Regions from separate parts of the Homo sapiens genome. Here regions 1 and 2 are each linked to region 3. The links come from fine-mapping of genetic effects on plasma protein levels. A gene starts in region 3. Each other region holds a variant in brackets. All regions are shown on one strand. Distances are from middle to middle.

Region 1 (5,233 bases), 27 kb after region 3:
GAGATTTTGCTTATGGCCAGTTTTGGGACCAGTTTATGGCCGGATTTGGGGGGCCTGTTCCCAATGTAAATGTCTTGTCAGATTCCACCTGTCAATTTTTGAGTGGATATCCTGTTAAAATGATGATAATTTTTGTTGATATAAAACTGTATCGGGAACATTTAGAATAATTGTTGGGAAAAGGTAAGTGCATATTATTTTATCATACGTATCTAAAAGTTCTTTTTTCTTTTTCTGATTCCTTGGAAATTAGTGTTTGTTTTCATTTTATGCAGTCCCTGTATAAAGGGAAGTGAATTCAAACATATATTTCTACTGATTGGAGAGTGTCCGTAAGTACTGCTCAGGTTTACTTAGTTAAAATAAAGTAGTTTAAGTTACCATTAAATTACATTTTTAATCTTCTTCTCAGAGCTACTATCCTTAGCAAGAATCCAACTTAAAATAAAGAAACTTAAACATTCATAACAAATTTGAGTTTTCAGGATTTGTTACTATTTATGTTTCACTGTAGGAAGCACTCCATATTGGATTGTGCGGAATTCCTGGGGAAGTTCTTGGGGAGTAGATGGTTATGCCCATGTCAAAATGGGAAGTAATGTTTGTGGTAAGTCATGAGTTTGTGTTTAAAACCTCAATATAAATATTAAGGAGATTATTTGAATATTTTAGAGTTACAATCTACTCAAACCACTTTAGCAGTAATAATTTTTGTCCTTTAACCAAATGATAAAAAAAAAAGTGTTTTGCAAGAGGAACTGTTAAACATATTAGTATTTGAAAAAGGAAGAGGGACCTTAGTAAAAAATATATATTACATATATATCTCAAAACATAAGATAAAGTAATAATTTACCAAGGTTAATTGCTTTAAAAATGAGATAAACACACAGCTTAGGAGACTGGACTCCTGCAGAAATGTCTTCTTGTTCCAAATTTACATTTCATAACTATAAATTTTTCTTAATTTCTGTATTATAATATCTGCTCAATGATTATCAAGAGTTTTTCTTTGTTTTAAAATATACGAAAACTAAGCATTAGTATTGTTTGTGATTTAATATGCCCCTTGCCACCTACAAAATTCTAGCAAAACACCCACTAGAATTGAGAGGCTTAGGCAAATACCAAACATGCTTTTTTATTGAGTGACAACTTTTTTTTTTTTGAGATAGAGTCTCGCTCTGTCTCCCAGGCTGGAGTGCAGTGGCATGATCTCGGCTCACTGCAAGCTCCGCCTCCCGGGTTCACACTCTTCTCCTGCCTCAGCCTCCTGAGTAGCTGGGACTACAGACTCCCGCCACCACACCTGGCTGATTTTTTGTTTTTGTATTTTTAGTAGAGACGAGGTTTCACCGTGTTAGCCAGGATGGTCTCAATCTCCTGACCTCGTGATCTGCCCTCCTTGGCCTCCCAAAGTGCTGGGATTACAGGCGTGAGCCACCACGCCCAGCCTGAAACACAACTTTTTAAATGAACCACCAACCAAACTAAAATAGCTAGTTAAGAATTTTAACCGTGTTATAAAACTATATTCAAACCTATATTCTAAAACTTTTGGTCTAGAAATCAACATATTTTCTGAATCAAGCTAGACCCAAACTAAGTTACATATTAGAGCAATCATGTCATTTCTTATTATAATTTGTTCCAACATATATACAATTTTTTTAAATGCAGAATCTTTCAGATTATGAGACTGATTAAATAGTTACAGAAAAATTTGAAAGTTTATGTTCAATGACTATTAACCAATCATTCCATAAGGCAGAATCCATGAGAGTTCATGAGTGATCTGTTCTATCACCCTGATGAGACAGTTTTTATAAGTTATTCATTGAAAAAAGTCAACATCACAGAAATATATTGGCCAGAATACTAGCAACCCCATCAGGCCTCCACTTTTCAGCATCACTGGGGACTCGTACATCTTTGGAACTTGCAGATAAATGACTGATGCTAATCATTAACCCTTGCTGCTGAACATATATTATGTCCGACTGCAGCAGTGGTGGATCCTGGATTTGGGCTGAGGGGTGACTGCTTTCAAATCTCTTACAGGAGTGTTAAAATAA[C/G]ATAATTCAAATATTGGTTCATAATTGCCTCAATTATAACTACGTCCCTCACCACAACCTTTCTCCATCCCTCAGCTACTAAGGGTGAGTGGAGATAATTTCTGCTCTCTACCTGCTTTCATAATGTAAATCTTTAAGGGCATGCCTGGTTGGTAATCATACAGGGATTCAAATTCTTCCTGAAAGTGAGTATTCCCTGAAAGTTACAATGATGTCATATTACTCTTATGAGCAATGGCATAAGGCAGATAGTATTTCATAGCTGCAAGAGATTTCGAAGATACGGTTAGTTATAATAAAAACCAGTCTTCAGATAGGCTATTTATTGCTTTTGCCATGATGTTGCAATCTGTGTTCTCGTGTGTAAAGAAAGCATAGCACACTCGTGATTTATTAAAGTTTTACCCACATTCAAATTTTAGAATTTGAGTTATGAAATTGTATTTAAAATAATTTCTTAAGTTATTTTGCCTCTAAGAAATAATGTATTAGTTTAATACAGCTTCCAGATGCATTCATTTATTCAGTTAACAGGTAGTTTTTGTTGTGGATTTTTAAAATCTTTAAAATTATTTTAGTTTCTTCAAACAAAAATATTAGGCATACTTCTAATATGCCTAATCTCTTCTAATATCTGCTTTTGATGATACCATGTTTACATTGACAAGCTGTGATAAGCATTACATTATTTTCTCAGTAGATACTCTTTCTGAACCCAAATGAAAAATTGCTTTAATTTACAATTTCAAAAGCATCTAAAGAGGAAATAGACTAATAATTCCTTTTTTTTCCCTTAGGTATTGCAGATTCCGTTTCTTCTATATTTGTGTGACATGTTGGGCAGATCAAGAGACAGCTACAAAAATGAAGGTTTTCATAATGCAATGTAACATAGTACTTCAAAGTATTATTCAACTTCAAGTTTCAGCAACTACCTACAAAAGATTCTAAGGCCTAGTAGTATTTAAACTAAGTTTCAGAATGTTCCCTTCTTGTAGAGAGATGGACAACCAAAGTCAGTGGGACAAACTCCAGCACAGAAGCCTGCGAGGAAGCCTATGGAATAGTTTCCTGTCCTGAGACGAAATTCAGATTAGGAGATATTTTAGGCCCCTGCAACTGGGGAAGGCTACTGTTTGTTTTTGTTTGCTTATTATTTATTTGTTTGTTTATTGTGAGATATTTCAGGTGGGATCAAAGAGGTCATAAGAATTTATTTTCTTTTGTGGGGTGTAACTACTAGCTTTAGATTACCCCTATACACAAGAATGGCCAACCTAAAATTATGTGTGTCTTGTACAGTTAGTTATATTAGCAGCCCTCTGAGATGGCGTATCTATCGGAAGGATTTCAAACACCAATTGCTTTACCTGAACAAATGGTGCTTACCCTTTGAACAGCAGAGTGACCACGTAGAAGGAAGGAAAAGGGCAAAATCGCTTCAGTTAAACTGAAATTAAATGAACAATAAGGCAACTATATAAGTAACTTCTAGTAGCATTGCCTGAGAGACAAATTATTGTTTGATAATTTTCATTGTGAATAGGAATCCAATAGATCATATTGCTTACTTTGTTCTTTTTATACTATAGAATAATATTTTGTTCTCTAGTATATCAAAATACCAAAATATTATCTCATATTTTCTCCCTCTTTCTCTTACTCTTTACCAAGTTTTCCTGGTGGCTTGGCTTCCCTGACTAAAGAATTAAGTCTCATTTTTACTTTCCATTTCTATTTTCTTACCACTTGGTTGGCTCCCTTTGTCTCTGTACCTTTACCAACATTAGGATCTCACCTCTTTCTTCCTCCCTTAATTCATAAGCACCACTCCTATCAAAGTCCCATCTCTTAACCCTGGGTATCAAACAAACTGTGAGTTTTCCAGAATCTGTTTCCCAGTTTTCCCCTCAGCTTTCCTGGTCTCCCATCCGAACTGCTTCTTTGTGCACCTCTTGTTCTTTCTCTTGGCTCCCAGTCTTGATTCCTGTGATCACTCTTGCATCACTAATTGCACAAGTGATTTCAGGTGCAATTCTGATTAGCCTGCGTCCACACAGTGATCGATGATCCTATGTGCCTAGAAAGGACACTGTGTGCTGCTCATGACCTGCAACAGGAAAAAAGCCATTTCTTGTTAGCAGTGTAAGAACCTTAGAGCAAAGGAGTTGACCTTCTGATTGAATATAAGCACAACCATATTAAATGAATCAATACAAGAAAATTATTTCTGATACTATGTATGTACATATTTCTTCTCTAAAATGTATCATTCTTTTCTAATGTATATGATCTAACAAAAATGAAACATGAAATGCAGTAGCAACCACTAAAAAAAAAAATTCAAGGACATCTAACTTTTTCTCTCACTTTTGCCCTTTGTTTATCCTTCCCTGTGATTAGATAAACAAAATAAAAAACAAAATGCTGTATTTCTCTTCTTACGCCAGTCAGAACCAATCCGAAAAGAATGTGTGTTGACTCAGGTTTGGAGTTATTTCAGGAAGACAGATATTGACCTTTTAATTGATAAATATTCTTATTATCCTGGAATGCCAGAAAAGAACTATGTCCTGCTTGTCTAGTTTGTATTCGCTGACTTTCTATGTGATATAGATGCATTTGTAATACTCTTTTTCAAGTGCTAAAGGATTTCTAAAATTTCAAACTGATTAATATGTTTCTGCTGTTCTGGATTTTGATGACATTTACAATAAAACAACCTACATTTGACTTTGGTTTAAAAAGAACCTCTTCTTAAGTGTATGGCTTACATTTTGTCAACACGGTATTAATGTGCTTTATATTTACAGTTTTCTCAGCTCTAAATTAATATATCCAGCTTTTGGTTTTCTCCATAGGCACTTTAACCTCAGTGTTTCCGAAACTCCATTCGTCATCCTCCCTAACTTCTCCCACCACCCCCAACAAAAATTTCCTTTACCTCTAAGAGCCTCTATTTTGGTTAACAGAATCAACATTATGGAATCACCCAATCAATAAAATTAAGACAAATCCTAAACATTTAAGCAGGTCATCTGCACCTTGGTAACCCATCAATGAATTACCTACCTCCTGTGGCTACTGTCATTTCTTAGTTGCATGTTCTTTAGTGTCATTTATCTCCATTATTCAGTAGCCTACTCATTATTCTCTAT
Region 2 (5,233 bases), 71 kb before region 3:
AATTATATAATAGAAAATGTAGTATGTGTATATATATTATACACATATGTGTGTATATACACACACACACACACACACACAACACCCCACATTTTCTTTATTCATTCATCCATTGATGGACACTTAGGTTGATTCCCTATCTTTGCTGTTGTGAATAGTGCTGCAGTGAACCTGATATTCTGATTTCCTCATCTTTGGGTAAATACCAAGTAGTGAGACTGCCGGATCGTATGGTAGTTCTACTTTTAGTTTTTTGAGAAATCTCCATACTGTTTTCCATAATGGCTGCACTAATTTACATTCCTGTCAACAGTGTATGAGTTCTTTTTCCTCTCCATCCTCACCAGCATGTTACATTTTGTGGTTTTGATATCTTAAAACTGCTTACTATCCAACTTCTACTGGGCCCTCCTAGCAACCCTTTGTTTCCCTTTATTAATGTTCCATTCTTAAGTTTAAAATGCCAGCTGTTACAAATCTTTTACTCAGACCTCCAAACTGCTCTGTTTCTCCCCTTCTTAAAACACTCTGGCCTCTACTTTGGCCAGTTTTCATTCTGAATATACACTTAGTTGAAAGATAACTGATCCTTGAACCTTCATCCCCCCTGCAACATACACTTCTGATTTGTACATCTCAGTCTTTCTTCAGAGTCTTGTTAGATTTTTCTCTTTGGGAGTCTCCTTACAAATACATTATCTTTGGTTTCATTGCATTTCTCTGACTTTTCCTTATTTAATAAGATTTTTATTGTAAAAGTTAAACATATTCATTGGGAAAAATATAAAACAAGTGAATAAAACAAAAATATTAAAGCTATTCGTGAGAGATTACTACTGAGAATAGAAAAATAGAATAAATAAATGTCTTCTTTCAAACCCCAAATCCTGCTCTCAATTGTGTTGCACTCCAAAGAGGCCTCTGAAGAAACATATTCATAAGAGATAAAGAAAGGCTAAGAAAAACATCGTGTTGGGCTTTAATCTACTGTACTGGGTTGTTCTTGCATTGATATAAAGAAATACCTGAGACTGGGTAATTTATAAAGAAGGAGATTTAATTGGCTCACGGTTCTGCAGGCTGTACAGTTGTGACGCTGACATGCCTCAGCTTCTCAGGAGGTCTCAGGGAGTTTTAACTCATGGCAGTAGGCAAAGTGGGAGCAGGGAAATCACACCATGAAAGCAGGAGCAGAGGGCGAGGAGGTGCCACACTCTTTTAAATGGGCAGATCTTGCAAGAACTCACTATCACAAATACAGCACCAAGCCATGAGAGATCTGCCCCATGATCCAAACGTCTCCCACCAGGCCCTACCTTCAGCATTAGGGATTACAATTCAATATGAGATTAGGGCAGGGCAAATATATAAACTATATCATCTACCCAAGCTCCAGGTATAGCTTGAACAGAGCAGGGCTAGAGGACTCTAGTTGCCTCAGCTATTGGCAGTTTTGGAATAGATGGACAAAAATCTAAAAAGATGCCTTGTGATAGTATCATGAGTCCTGTATCCCTTATACTGTTATCATTCTAAAACACCAGAGCCTATTCAACACTCTGGTTATATTGTAATTTAGTAAATCCCATTCTACTATTGTAAAACTAACTCTGTGGTGACATCCTGCTCTCCCATACACACACATGTACCTATTAGTCTTAGAGTTTGGAATAAATTCCTAGAACTCGAGATTAAGGGCATGTACACATGTTGGTTAAGACCCCTTCTCTTGCCAGTGAAAAACAAACCAACTCATTGGAAAATTGATTGGCTCATGTAGCTCAACGTTTTAGAGGTAGAATTGACTTTAGATGTATCTTTATGCTGAGTTGAAACAATGCCACCAGAATCCAACTCAGCGTTGCCTATTCTGAGTTATTGGCTTAATTCTCAGTCTCCTCGTGGTAAACACCACCCCCGACTCCAACCACCCCAGTGGCTTCAGATTTACATTATGGCAACA[C/T]GAAATCTAGCAGAATGGTTAGTTTCCTTGAGATTATAAAAGAAATCCTTAAATTAATCTCAACAGGTCTGACATAGGCTCTGCCTATCTCTGAATCAACCTCTGTCATCTTGTGGGCTGTTATTTTGTCTTTTTTTTGAGACAGCGTCTTGCTCCGTCTCCCAGGCTGTAGTGCAGTAGAGCCAGCCCAGCTCACTGCAACCTCCACCGCTTGGGTTTGAGCAATTCTCCTACCTCAGCCTCCCGAGTAGCTGGAACTACAGGTTGTGCCATCACGCCTGGCTAATTTTTGTATTTTTAGTAGAGACAGGGTTTCATCATGTTGGCCAAGCTGGTTTTGAACTCCTCACATCAAGTTATCCACCCACCTCGGCCTCCCAAAGTGCTGGGATTACAGGCATGAGCCACCATGCCGGGCCCGGGCTGTTATCTTTAAATTTATCAGCTGAGAGTGAGAGAAGGGTGATTTCCTAAAGGAAAATCAAGGCATAGTCCTTAGAAGGAGGAGTGAATTAATCTGTGGGACCCTAACAAACGTCCATGACAGGATTGCTTTGTGAGCTTTAGAAAACACTTGACACTAATATAAACTGAATTATAGTCAACATGGTAGTGAAAAAGAGAAACTTTAATTTTAATTGGCCCCATATTTGAAGCATTGACCTTATCTGAAGTGTTTGAATTTCTTTTTATCTAATTTTTTAATTACTTGCCCATTCCTGTCCTTTATTCAGCTATGGTTAAGGTATTTGGGGTTTTGACTCTGTTTGGTTTTTGTCCTGCTATTTCATGCTTTGAGTATTTTTTCTCATTCTTAGTATTAGGATGCTGCCTGATAATTGTCTAATTTTATTCATTTGTAGCACCCTTTTCTTTCTTTTTAACTTTTATTTCTGCCAAGAATCTCATAAGATTTGTTATTCTTGAAGTAAAAGTTTTGGTAAAGATATGTCTAGTTTTTGTTTTGTTTTGTTTTGTTTTTCATTTCTTTTAACACTTTTCTCACCCCTGTAATTGTACCTGGCACCTATTTAACTTTGTAGATCTGCAAATAGAAGTCAATATTCAGGATTCTCTCTCACATCCTGTCCTCGATCCACTGCTTATGTCTCTGAATATTTGTAATATTCCATTTTTTAATTTGTTTCTTAAGAAGACCCAATTAACCAATTAGGTATGTAGTTAGTATTTCTGTTGCCTTCCCTCTACATAGAAATATACTAATTTTCATCTTTGTCTCTTCCCCTGAGTTCAGAGAAAATTTATCATGTTTGTCCTTCATACCACTCATTTAGTTTTTACAGGGTCAATTCTGCCCTTTCTTGTTCTGGATGTATTTAAAAATCATAATTAATTTTTCTACTATAATAGATTTCTCCTTATTCCATTTTAGGATTTATTTATATTGCTGCCTATCTCCTTCCTACCTCCTATTTTATCACCCCTCTTGTAACATCATTTTTTTTTTTTACTAATATAAGCCACATTTCCTTGAATTTCATCAAAAGTTAAAAGCATTGCCCACCTAAAATACTGTTTTCTTTTCTATACCTCCTTCTTTATCCTCCAGAACTCTTTACACTTTTTTTTTTTTTTTGAGACAGAGTCTTGCTCTGTTGTGCAGGCTGGAGTGCGGTGGCACGATCTCAGCTCACTGCAACCTCCACCTTCCGGGTTTAAGAAATTCTCCTGTCTCAGCCTCCCAAGTAGTTGGGACCACAGGCGCACACCACCACCCCCAGCTAATTTTTGTATTTTTAGTAGAGTTGGGGCTTCACCATATCGGTCAGGCTGGTCTTGAACTCCTGACCACAAGTGATCCACCTGCCTCGGCCTCCCAAATTGCTGGGTTTACAGGCGTGAGCCACCATGTCTAGGCCACACTTTTTATTTTATTTTATTTAAAATAACTTTTTATTTTATTTTATTTAAAATAGCCCGCCACCATGCTCGGCTAATTTTATTTATGTTTTTATCATTCATTTAATTTATTTAGCCTGAAACTATCCAAACTAACATTACCTTTCAAATCAGGATGAGTGGATTTTCTCAGATATTCTTATTTTCCATTTGGACAATTTTAGATATCTTATTTATGAATGTAACCTGAAGTAATTGTTATATAATTTTTTTAAAAAAAAAACTACACTGAAAGGCATAAGGATTAAGCCAGGACAACAGGGAAAATAATGGACTGGGAAACACATTGCTCAGTTTTGTCTCTGTTGTGAGGCTGGACTCACTGCGTGTGTAGAAGAGGCACTACTGTTTCATCTCATCTTTAAAAGGTATTCATCAGTGAGCACAGTTCACTGTGATAATCCCTGCTCCCGTAGGACCACTGCCTGATCCAGGGACTCGACCTCAGTACAATTAGGATTGATCATTACTTCTTCCACCAAAGATAGCTTTGTGAACTTGTACAACAAACATTTTCAGAGATGTCACCATGACTATTGTAGATTGTCACTTCTTATAAGCTTGTATTCTGAAGCTGACCTACAATAACATGCCTTATCATTTATAACATATATTAATAATGAATCAATTAAAGAAGATTCAAAAGATTTTTCTGCTCTTCTTCCAGGTTCTCACTCTAGCTTTTAGCCCAAGAATGTATGTTGTATGTAATATTCTTTACGTATTTAGGGCTCAGAAAATGATACCCCCAAAATTTGGTGCTTTGACACACTGAACATTTTGAACTAAAACTGGAAGGCCTTAGATGCTGCTTCAGAATCAAAGTTTCTCTCTGACCTTCCCCCACCCCCTAATCTCTCTGATCTTCTTTCTTTCCCAAAGCACCAGCAAGGATTCTCTCTGGAATTTTTTTATCTGACTGGAGAAACTTATTTCCAGAAGAAATGCAATTTTCTTAAGACTCCCTCCCTAGGGATCTCACCAACTAACCAGGAAAGATTAACCACTGTAGAAGAGAAGTGACTGGGAGTTGTCACCATGTGCAGACAGACTTTTCATGTATTCTTATGGGGGCAACTCTGAGACCTTACCTGGGAGACTTTATCTGTATAATAAGACAACTTTGTTCACAGTGAAGTTCTATTCTTCACCTTCCACCACCACCCCCAGAGCTCAGAAGAACTTTATCCAAGGAAATTGTTCTTTGAGCTCATTTATTTCCTGTAAAAAATCATTTACTACCCTTCTAAAATTTCTTATAGCATCCCACTTCCCTCTCTCCTGTGAAGAAGGTATATATAAGTCTCAATAATTTGGCCTTTGAGTCTCATATTTCTGTGACTCTCATGT
Region 3 (5,233 bases):
CCACTTTTCAAAAACTTTGTTTTACTACTTAATAGATGATTCTGATCTCCCTTTTAACTGACCCAAAATTCTTCACAATCTGTGCGCTTCTTACTTATCTCATATTCTACTCTCCCCCATCCTTTTTTTTTTCCTTTACTCCATCCATGCTGACGTCTTTTATGTTTCTGGAACGTGCCAAGCAAACTTCCATCTCAAGGCCTTTGTGTTGACAGTTCTTTCTGTCTTAGCTTCTCTTTCCCTGGATATCTGAATATCCATGTGGCTCACTTTCTTCTCCTTCAAATCTTTGCTCAAAACTCTCCTCATCAGTGAGGACAGTATTGAACAGCTTATTTAAAATAGCAGTACCACCCCTCACACTGATGATGCTCCTTATCTGGATTTATTGTCCTTTAACACATGTACAAGTTGAGCATCTCTAATCCAAACACCCAAAATACTCCAAAATCTAAAACTTATTGAGTACTGACATCATGCCACACCTAGAAAATTTCACACCTGACTTCATGTGGTGGGTCATAGTCAAAATGCATTCAAAGCCTTGTTTTATGCATAAAATTACCTAAAATAGTCAGTAAGATTACCTTCAGTCAGTAGCATAAGTGAAACACAAATGAATTTTGTGTTTAGACTTGGGTCTCATCCCCAAGAGATCTCATTATGTATATGCAAATATTCCAAAATCTGGGGGGAAAAAATCTGAAATCTGAAACACTTCCAGACCCAGGCATTGTGGATAAGGGATCCTCAACCTGTAGTAATTTTATTGCGTCTCTCCCCCTCACTGAAATACCAGCTTCAACAGGGTGGGGCTTTTCATCTCTTCAGTCACTTATGCACTTCCATCCATGATGTGTCCTGATGACCTAGAACAATGCCTGACACTTAGGAAGTACTCAATAAAATATTTGTTGATGTAAATCAATTGAAATATCAGTCCCATAGGGATGGGGATTTTCATCCCTTTAGTCACTTATCCACTTACTTGATATATCCTCATTACCTAGAAGAATGCCTGACACTTAGCAGGTACTCAATAAATACTTGATGTGAGCTCCTGAAATGAGTTTAGTTCAAGGGGCTTTTTTACAATACCAATTATCCTAAAGTAAAGATGACTGCCTATATTTAAATTTCCTGACTCCGTAGGTTGTCAATAAACAGGGACTATGATCTGAAAGCAAAGTTCAGTTTAAAAAGAAAAGTATGTGCTTGTATGAGTCACAAAAAAGGGCTAAGTACAAAAGAACTGCTGAGGTAAACATGAACATCGTTCTGTGAACTTATGATTTAAATAAAATCTTTATCACCACACTTGCCAAGAGCAATATATCTTATCATGAACGTACATAAAAAACTCTTGTGTCTTTCCTCTTAATACTCGGAACATTATTTTTATTTTTATTACGAAGTTTGCATTGGAGAATATTGTAACTCACTGCACCTAGGTAAAAACTAAAGACATAAATCTGATGTTAGTTCTAAAAATCTACAAGGGTAATGATATGAATTTCACAGACATGGAAGCCTTGTTCAGAATAGATGATAATAGAAAGGCTCGGTAGAGCCAGGTTCATGAGTGTGTGACCTGTGCAGAAGTGGGTGCTTAGAAGGCCCATGGCTTGGGTTAATGCTCTGCTGTTGCCGTCTTGAAATTCTTCACAATTTATGAACAAGGGAACTTCATTTTCAGTTTACACGGAACCCTGCAAATTATGTACTTGGCTCTATCTTCCTTTGCAAACGGAGAAACAGGCTTCAAGAGTTTTGAAACTGCCATAATAGATCCAAAAACTGTGTATGCTTTTCACATCTGTACAATTTTGTTACGTATTTATAAACATCTGCTGAATGGATGACTCTATGTATTGGCCCACATCACTTCAGAACTAGGTCTTGAACTTAGGGATTGTGGCAAGAAGGAAAAAGGCAGCTTCCGGTGGCTCACAGGGCAGGCCAGGTGGCTCACACCTGTGAGCATTTTGGGAGGCCAAGGCGGGTGGATCACTAGAGTCCAGGAGTTCGAGACCGGCCTGGGCAATATGGCAAGATCCTATCTCTACTAAAAATACAAAAATAGCCTGGGGTGGTGGCACGCGCCTGTAGTCCCAGGTACTCCGGAGGCTGAGGCAGGAGGCACTTGAACCTGAAGGTCGAGGCTGCAGTGAGACCTGATCTCAACACACACAAAAGAATGACTCTCAGGCTTCTTTTTTTCTAATGGATGGAAGTGAAACCTCGAAAGCACATGGTCAAGTGCCTGACTCTTCCAAAACAAAAACAAAAACAAAAAAACTAGCCTCAGCAAGGAGGTCCGTAGCCTCCAGCTGACCGGATTTTCAGTCACAGAACACCGGGGACCTAAAAAAGGGTCAATCTCAGCATCGTGCACTCAACCCAGCTCCTTCCGCCCCTCGAGCCCAGGCTGGGAGGAGCCGAGGAACCGAAAGAGAAAACAGGCCGCGCGGGCGGCAGAGGAGCCGGGCGCCGCAATGGACGTGCGGGCGCTGCCGTGGCTGCCGTGGCTGCTGTGGCTGCTGTGCCGGGGCGGCGGCGATGCGGACTCCCGCGCCCCCTTCACCCCGACCTGGCCGCGGAGCCGCGAGCGTGAAGCCGCCGCCTTCCGGGTACCGAGCGCGCGCCTCCCCGGGATCTGTCCCTGCTCCCTCACTTCCTGTCCCGGGTCTGGGCTGCGGAAGAGGGCCCCCGAGAGCTGACCCTGCTCGTGGGCACCCGTGGCTCTGCGATGCGTCTGGGGCCCTGAGCTGCGGGTGCAAAAGCCAGCTTCTCTCTCCCCTCTCCTTGTGCCATGGTGTCACTCCCCCATGCCTTTGCTAACCAAAAGACTTGATTTTCCAGAAGAGATTTGTCGCTATGGATTTTTGGGACGCACCCAAATAAATCCATAGATACGTCCAAAGTGTCCTTGGTGGGAAGAAGCACCCCCTTTTAGCAATCCCCTCTATCGTTGCCACTGGCTTCCAAAGCTCTTCTATTTCTCTTTTATGAGAACCAGAAACAGGGAGCAGCCTGTTGGTGGAAGAAACCTGTCGTGTTTTTTTTTCCCGAGGAGGGCGCTAGTGATCAGAAGTTAGAAACAAAGAGCCTGTCTTTAGCCAGATTAAAGAATCCTGATGGTTTATGATTCTCCTTAAACTAACGCACCACTTTAAAAGTTCTTCCTGCCTTGGCGGAGACTGAGTTGAAGAAAAGAGAAGCATTTAATTTCCTTTTCATATTATTATACGAAATATAATATAATTTATATTTTATAATATTTATAATAAATACTTAGATTTGAGTCTAGCATGAAAACTCTGGAAGGGACCAGTTAGCTGAGCACAAATAATGATTTTCCTGAAACCAAGGAAACTGCAAGGGATGCCGATTTAGTGTTCGCCTCACTATGTTCTAGATAGCTGATACTATTTAACACATTTTTAAATTCATGAAAGATGCCATTATCATGATTTAATTTATTGGAAAAGAAAATTCTTTCATTCTGAATCAAACATAAGTCTGAGTTGAGTAATATTGCTCAAGGAAGTGTATCTTTTTTCCTGGTGTTTGTTGGAATTTCTCACAGGATTTCATAGCTGTGCTCTTTTCCCCCGACTCTCCTGGAAAGCTCCAATGTTTAGGAAGGCCAGCCTTCCCTGATTCTGTCCACTCTTACGTTTTGTCCAAACCGAGATGTGTACTGTTATCTCCACTTTATTATTCTTGAGTTCAGTTCTAGCTTTCAAAACCAGAAGTCCTCTTACTCTTTCAAGAACAAAATTCTGGCCTGTATTCTACCCCTATCCTCAACTTACGTTCGTTTTCCTGGTAAACGAAACCCCTTAGGGGAAAAGTCAGTTTCACCTTTATTGGTAACGTATTCATTGGCTAAATAAATAAACACACTGTCAGGCTCCTAAAAATAATATTTCAGGACAAAGCTCAAAGGGCTAGACTTATAAATATATTTTTAACATTTATTTAGATTTTAGATAATTTATAAATATATATGTGTATAATTTATGTAGTGACTCATACTGGTCCTGTAAAGAGGCCATACCCTGATGAATGTCTAGAAAATGTAACTTTTCTCAGGAGAAATACAAAGAAACAGGTTGAAAGATGGAAAGTTGGAAGTGGAGGAGGATCGAATTATGAAGACTCTTAGTACATTTTAAAAACCTCGGGTTAAGAAATACTGAAAAAATTTTCAAAGCAATTGCTGCCTGTAAGAATTTGCTTCATGAGATGGATACCCAAAAAAGAGAACATTGAGGCTTCAACGCACAGTTGCTGGAAACTGAACACCTCTCGGTGCTTAGTTGGACTTTATCCAAGAATGCTTTAAAACCGATTTTCTACCTTAGTGGTCCCCAATCTTTTGGCACTAGGGACCGGATTCATGGAAGACATTTTTTCCATGGACGGGAGGAGGGAAGTGGGGGAGATGGATGGATTTGGGATGAAAGTCTTTCATCTAAGATCATCAGGAATTAGTTAGATTAGTTAGCTGGAGATTGCTGTTCGGACTTGGGATAGAGAGCTGGACAGTGGGAAAGGTGGAAAGGGCCTTGCCTCCTTGGTAACCGTGAAACTTCTTGTTGAAATCAAGTTAATTCATTGGTGAATTGATGATTCAGGGGTTTGCAGCTGAAGATCTGGTTCAAGAAAGTCCTTGATTAATTAGTAATGTCTTTCATGGTCATGGGTTTAGAGAATGGTGAAGGTTTTAAAATTTGTTTTAATCTTAGCCTTAGATAGTTTTGTAAGTTTCCCAGGAATGCACGTTAAATGAAAGTTAGGTTAGCCCATGACTTTCCCACAAAATATTATAGTATTGTTCAGTGAAAACTAGACTCCACTATGGTTTATTATGGGATGCCTCACAAGACACCTGACTTTGGATGGCACCCCTTATCTCTGCACTTTCACTCCTTTAGAAACTTCCAGTGCTCAGGAAGCTCTTAACTATTGGATTTAGCCTACTCTCCTTTGTGCCAAAACCTAGCTATGCCCTCATATTTACTGATGCTCATTATTTTACCACAGAACATTTGGTATTCTTATCCTTTTGGGAGGCACAGACCCAATATTGGATCCAATAAAATTTGCTTGATACACTCACTTTAGAATAATATCTATGCCAAAGTACATGTGATTTTACATAAAATTTCCAAAGCTTTACCTTAAGACCAGTTGCCGTAATGACACAGGTTATATTATTATAAGA

Direction of the effects. Positions count from the first base shown, and alleles are read on the strand shown. Strength reflects both the effect of a copy and how common the allele is. Not every link is listed here.
For the plasma level of the protein whose gene starts at base 2,477 in region 3, allele C in region 2 goes with a lower level than allele T (weak association).

What was found. PIP is the posterior inclusion probability: the model's chance that the variant is causal. Protein levels are from antibody-based Olink assays in UK Biobank. Linkage for the fine-mapping came from a reference panel and not from the study's own genotypes, which makes the PIPs less certain.
Region 1: its variant is fine-mapped to the plasma level of the CTSO protein (UK Biobank, PIP above 0.99).
Region 2: its variant is fine-mapped to the plasma level of the CTSO protein (UK Biobank, PIP above 0.99).

Annotation. Positions count from the first base shown.
Region 1 is chr4:155,923,710-155,928,942 of GRCh38, reverse strand. It overlaps CTSO (cathepsin O), which reads left to right. Exons shown (of 8, transcript NM_001334.3): 7 at 515-607; 8 at 2,873-4,825. The coding sequence ends at 2,907. Among named protein-coding and RNA genes, the nearest start is that of TDO2, 23 kb to the right of the region's middle. The variant C/G (reference allele first, on the strand shown) is at 2,076.
Region 2 is chr4:156,022,313-156,027,545 of GRCh38, reverse strand. No RefSeq gene overlaps it. Among named protein-coding and RNA genes, the nearest start is that of CTSO, 71 kb to the right of the region's middle. The variant C/T (reference allele first, on the strand shown) is at 1,964.
Region 3 is chr4:155,951,110-155,956,342 of GRCh38, reverse strand. CTSO (cathepsin O) reads left to right here and starts at 2,477. Exons shown (of 8, transcript NM_001334.3): 1 at 2,477-2,630. The coding sequence starts at 2,496. RefSeq lists an enhancer at 1,072-1,366.